Regions from separate parts of the Homo sapiens genome. Here region 2 is linked to region 1. The links come from fine-mapping of genetic effects on gene expression. A gene starts in region 1. The other region holds a variant in brackets. All regions are shown on one strand. Distances are from middle to middle. Region 1 holds the start of GLOD4 (glyoxalase domain containing 4). Region 2 has its middle 2.8 kb from the start of GEMIN4.

Evidence for each region. PIP is the estimated chance that this variant, and not a neighbour inherited with it, causes the effect.
Region 2: its variant is fine-mapped to the expression of GLOD4 in whole blood (TOPMed, PIP above 0.99). The same link has a PIP of 0.9 or more in blood mononuclear cells.

The regions. Positions count from the first base shown.
Region 1 is chr17:780,920-783,944 of GRCh38, reverse strand. It overlaps GLOD4 (glyoxalase domain containing 4), which reads left to right and starts at 1,665. Exons shown (of 9, transcript NM_016080.4): 1 at 1,665-1,779. The coding sequence starts at 1,690. It overlaps MRM3 (mitochondrial rRNA methyltransferase 3), which reads right to left and starts at 1,592. Exons shown (of 4, transcript NM_018146.4): 1 at 1,253-1,592; 2 at 618-862. The coding sequence starts at 1,566. RefSeq lists enhancers at 1,065-1,613, 1,285-1,634, 2,635-2,734.
Region 2 is chr17:753,853-756,352 of GRCh38, reverse strand. It overlaps a transcript of GEMIN4 not described here and the pseudogene DBIL5P. Among named protein-coding and RNA genes, the nearest start is that of GEMIN4, 2.8 kb to the right of the region's middle. The variant T/C (reference allele first, on the strand shown) is at 1,016.

The DNA.
Region 1 (3,025 bases):
AAAATGAAGGGCTCAATCTTTCAGTAAACGCTTTCTTAATTTTTAATCTGACATAGAAAGTTGAAGAAGTAATCTAAAAAATAGAAGGTTTGAGGAATAGTGGTTCTTCCTAGAGACCATAAAGAGCCACAACACAAATGATAGTGAAAAACGGGTTTCAATTTCCATTGAAAATACTCTAAGATACACAGGTTTGAGAATTATATTTTTCTAATTGTAACATTTTGAATTTCATTTCAATGCTGCTGTCCTAAGACAAGTATGAGAAATTAATCCTAGGTCTCCACACCTTAAGATACACTGTGTAAGGCCAGGCATGGTGGCTCACGCCTGTAATCCCAGCACTTTGGGAGGCCGAGGCAGGAGGATCACCTGAGGTCACAAGTTCGACGTCAGCCTGGCCAACATGGTGAAACCCCACCTCTACTAAAAATACAAAAATCACCCGGGCATGGTGGCAGACGCCTGTAATCCCAGCTACTGCGGAGGCTGAGGCAAGAGAATCCCTTGAACCCGAGAGGCGGAGGTTGCAGTGGGCCGAGATCGCGCCATTGCACTCCAGCCTGGGTGACAGAACAAGACAAAAAAAAAAAAAGATACACTGGGTAATCACTAACCCATTATTCCTTGTGGCGTTACGAGGTCGGACCAATCCTTGATATCCTCAAATTTCACCTTAATGAGGCTGACACCTTTCAGCTTATCGACTGGCAACTCCTTTAGGTATTCTAGACGGCTAAAGAAGAACATTTTTGGCACAGCTCCAGCCTTGAGAGCGTCTGAAATGAGCCTGCGACCTTCCAGCAGGATCTTCCCTTGTTTTTCCCGAAATGGCCTGGACTTTACTATTGTCATTACACTGCTGTAGATGGAAATAAAAAAAAAAAACAGGTAACTATCAACATCCTTGTTACTGAGACACGCTTAGTTGTAACAGAAATAAAGAGCTACGGAGAGGGCCGGGCGCGGTGGCTCACGCCTGTAATCCCAGCACATTGGGAGGCCGAGGCGGGCGGATCACCTGAGGTCAGGAGTTCCAGATCAGCCTGGCTAACATGGTGAAACAAAAACAACAACAAAGAGCTAAGGAGAAACAGAAGCTAATTCCAAAGACGCTTATTCGGCCCTCTGTGCATAATACAAAAACCAGCGGGCTGTACTGGAAGAAGTCCTCCATCGGAAGGAGGTTAAGGTTCCGCTGTGCGACGGGAAGGGAAACGAGAACATTCGACAGGCTCAAGAACCACATCACCTCAGCCTCCTGTCCCCGGGATAAGCTTTATCGTAGCGAAGCCCAGACTCTTCCCAGGTGCTGGGAGCGCGGGATGCGGACTCCTCGAGCGGTTGTTTCTCTCGTTGCTCCTGGGCACTGGCCTCAGATGGTGCCTTGCGGGGCTGCTTCCCAGGAGCGCGCTTCTGTTCCACCACCTCTCCGGAAGGAAACACCACTTTCACTGGGCTCCGCCGCAGCGCCCGGACCCAGCGCCTCGCGTCAAGGTCCCAAGCCTGGACCACCTGCAGCAACGGTCGCACGACAAACCTCGCGGGTCTCACCAGCGCCGCCATGTTCCCTGAGACCCGGGCTGCGTCACGAAAGCGCGCCGTCGGCGGCTAGTGACGTCACGGCCCGTGGCGCCCTTCGTGGACTGGGCTGTACGGTGCGCGTGACGGCTGCGTGCGGCGGGAATCATGGCTGCTCGCAGAGCTCTGCACTTCGTATTCAAAGTGGGAAACCGCTTCCAGACGGCGCGTTTCTATCGGGACGTCCTGGGGATGAAGGTGCAGGCCGGGGCCGACAGGGGCTGGCGCGCGAGGCTGGAACCGGCGCCCGAGCCGGCCCTGGCGGAGGGAGGGGAAAATGGGTGTGTCGTGAACCTAAGCCGGAGGGTGTCCGACCTTAGGCCCTGCGCGGTGTTCAGCTTCAGGAGCGTGGCGAGTTGCCGTTGGGGATCATAGGCCTTGGAGAAGGGCCTAACACGATTAGTCCCCGCGGTGTGCCCACGCACGTCCTTTCATTTAAGCCACTCGTAAACGTTTATTGAGCCCCGCCCTTGTGGAGCTTACCGTCTACCGGAAAAGACGGTAAATAAAATGTTATATAATGCTTTCTAGTTAATATTTGTGTTTTCCGGTTTGGAGCCTTTGATGTAGATAAAATCAGCGTATTCAGAGTTCTGCTTCTAGCAAGGCTGGTCTGAATAGTCCGTTTCGGATACTCAGTCTCTGAATATATGCTCCAACTCTCAACCCATCTGCTTTTCAACAGCACCCAGAAGCGGTCTGTCTCGGGTCCTGAGGAGCTGTTATTTGCAGGATTCAGTTGGTTGGGGAACTGGGTTTTGGGGACCTCCTTTGATAAGCCAGGGAGGTAGGGAACACACCACTAAGGAAGACTTGAAAGGTGCAAGAGCGCGGTTTAGTGTATAGACGGTGCAATAGACGGGGATCTGAATTCGTCAGGTCATTTTTAAAATATCTGCTATTTTCAGGGTACTACGTTGAGTTTTGGCAACAAAGGTGCAAATGACCCTGATATATATCCTCCATTAGAGCTCATGGCCTGGGTTGGGGTGGGAGTTGGAACTGGATTTGTACGTAGATGATGGTAATGGAAGTCAGAATTTGATAGTGAAAAACCACCAAACTTTCGATAGCAGAAACCACAGAGCTGTCCCTTGTTAGTATTTCCTCGTCGATCAAAAGGTTGTTGCAAAGATTAAACACGTGCCGGCGCGGTGGCCCACGCCTGTAATCTCAGCACTTTGGGAGGCCAAGGCGGGTGGATCACTGGAGGTCAGGAGTTGGACACCAGCCTGGCCAACATGGTGAAACCCTGTCTCTACTAAAAATACAAAAATTAGCCGGGCATGGTGGCACACGCCTGTAATCCCAGCTACTCGGGAGGCTGAGGCAAGAGAATCGCCTGTATCTGGGAGGCGGAGGTTGCAGTGAGCCGAGATCGCACCATTGTGTTCCAGCCTGGATGACGAAAGCAAAACTCCGTCTCAAAAAAAAAAAAAAAAAA
Region 2 (2,500 bases), 27 kb after region 1:
CCAGCTCACATTCCTTTCCTTATTTGGAAAGAGGACTAACTTTCTAGCTCATTACAGACACCCCTTCCCCTTCCTCTCCGCTTTCTTTTACGGGCCCACCCTATCTAAAAAAATCAAATGTTTAGCCAAGCGCGATTAGTTTAGATTGTACGACCTGACCCCGGCCAATGGGGAAAGGGTAGAGGGGCAGGACTTGTGTCAGGAACAAAGGCTCTCGTGCCCCTTTGTTCAGGTGTGCTCTCATGACAACTGGCCAAGGAGGCACCCCTCTGCACAGAAGTAAAATTGCTTTGCTAAGAATCCTTTGTTCGAGTGTTCTATTTCCTTAGGATTTTGAGCATTATTCCTAACAAGTATTTAAAAGGGAAAGAGCAGGAAGGGAGGGAAGAGGGAAAGGAAAAATACAGGAGGGTAGGTAGGGAGATAAGTGGTTACATTCTTATTAGGCTTTGATCAGCGCTCACCAAATCTACATGTCACAGTGAAAGGAGGGGGTAGAGGAACAGTCAGTTTTGCATTCAGCTCAGTAAATCTACATTTAGCACTCACCAAATCTACATGTTACAGTGAAAGGAGCAGGCAGAGGAACAGTCAGTTTTGCATTCAGCTCAGTAAATCTACATTTAGTGCTCACCAAATCTACATGTTACAGTGAAAGGAGCGGGCAGAGGAACAGTTACGCATTCAGCTCAGTAAGTCTACATTTAGCACTCACCAAATCTACATGTTACAGTGAAAGGAGCAGGCAGAGGAACAGTCAGTTTTGCATTCAGCTCAGTAAATCTACATTTAGCGCTCACCAACTCTACATGTTACAGTGAAAGGAGCGGGCAGAGGAACACTCAGTTATGCATTCAGCTCAGTAAATCTACATTTAGTGCTCACCAAATCTACATGTTACAGTGAAAGGAGCGGGCAGACGAACAGTCAGTTATGCATTCAGCTCAGTAAATCTACATTTAGCGCTCACCAAATCTACATGTTACAGTGAAAGGAGCGGGCAGAGGAACAGTTA[T/C]GCATTCAGCTCAGTAAATCTACATTTACTGCTCACCAAATCTATATGTTACAGTGAAAGCAGCAGGCAGAGGAACAGTTATGCATTCAGCTCAGTACATCTATGTTTTGTCTCGGCTGGTGAGGGATGGTTTCTGGTGTTGTCTTTGTCCCTTACCTATGAAGATAAGCTGTTAATTTATATTGTCAGGTGAGGGAGACCACCTGGGGAGATATGTGGCCTTCTGTCTTGTAGCTTATCTGTTTAGGAACAAAAGGAAGTTTTTTGCATATTCCATGACTCAATTTCCAAGCTTAACTTTTCCTTTTCGCTTAGTGAATTTGGTCCCAAGATTTTATTTTCCTTTCACAGTATACCCCATGCCCATCAATCCCATTCCCCCTGCATCCTATAGGTAACCTCTTCTTAAGCAAATACAAATAGATAAATCCTTATTTTCTGTTTTTTTTTTTAAAACTTTATTTTACTGTTACTTTCTGCTGTCCTAATTATGGCACATTTTTACTTTCTAGGTTCTGTGATTTACAGAGTGGTCTGGCTATGTGGACAGCTTCTAAATTGTCACCACATTTTGGAGCAAGATGTATTATTTTTACAATTAATTTACATTTAACATGAATCATGATCCTAAGTGCATCAGAATGTCTTCATAACATTCGCCAAAGAAGAGAGGGCAGCACTGCTGTTCTACAGTGTGGCTCTCACCTGGTCCACAGTTACCAGAAATAGTTCTTTCGTTGCTGTGATGTCCTGGGTGGGCTTCATTCTTTAGTAATGTACTTTGTCTACAGCAACTTCCTGCAACTATGTGAACAGATCTTGAAGACACACAGTGAGGTTTGGTTTCCTTTGTCCTCTTAAGTCTTTATGGTTGTTGCTTCTATTGTTTATTGGTCCCAGTGAGAACTGCAGCTGACCTGATGTCATGATCTGTGAAGATAGTTTCTATTAAAGAAGAAGTACCAGGAAATCCCATATGCCACCGTAGACCTGCCTTTCTGGATACCATTTACTACTCCATACTCCAGCCGCCATGCACAATGGTTGTGTATGAGGCTCCTGTGATCATTAACAGGAGTAGAAGCTGGGCTCAGACACTCTGGCACTTGCATAGGTCAAGGGGTGTGTTGTGCTCTTGCAACAAATCCCACATAGACATCCATATGCATATTGTCCCACCGTCCCCTAAGCAGAAACCAGGGTTAAGTACAGAATAGTCCCGGGAACATTTTGGTTGCCCGGCCTTAGGTGAGCCTTTCTGGGGCTGGGATTTTGACACCATCTGCTCCATTGTTTCTAAACTGCTGTGTTCTGGCGCATCAATTGTTTCATCACATTATCATCACGGAAAGCTTGGTCTCCCTCAAAACATGAACCGGGTAGGCCCTGTGTTCCAGTGGGGGCTTTTGGACTTGACTTTAGTGTTTAGGAGGACAGAGTCCCTCTCCCCTCTGTGGTGCTGGGGTATTAGTAAATCAGCCTTGA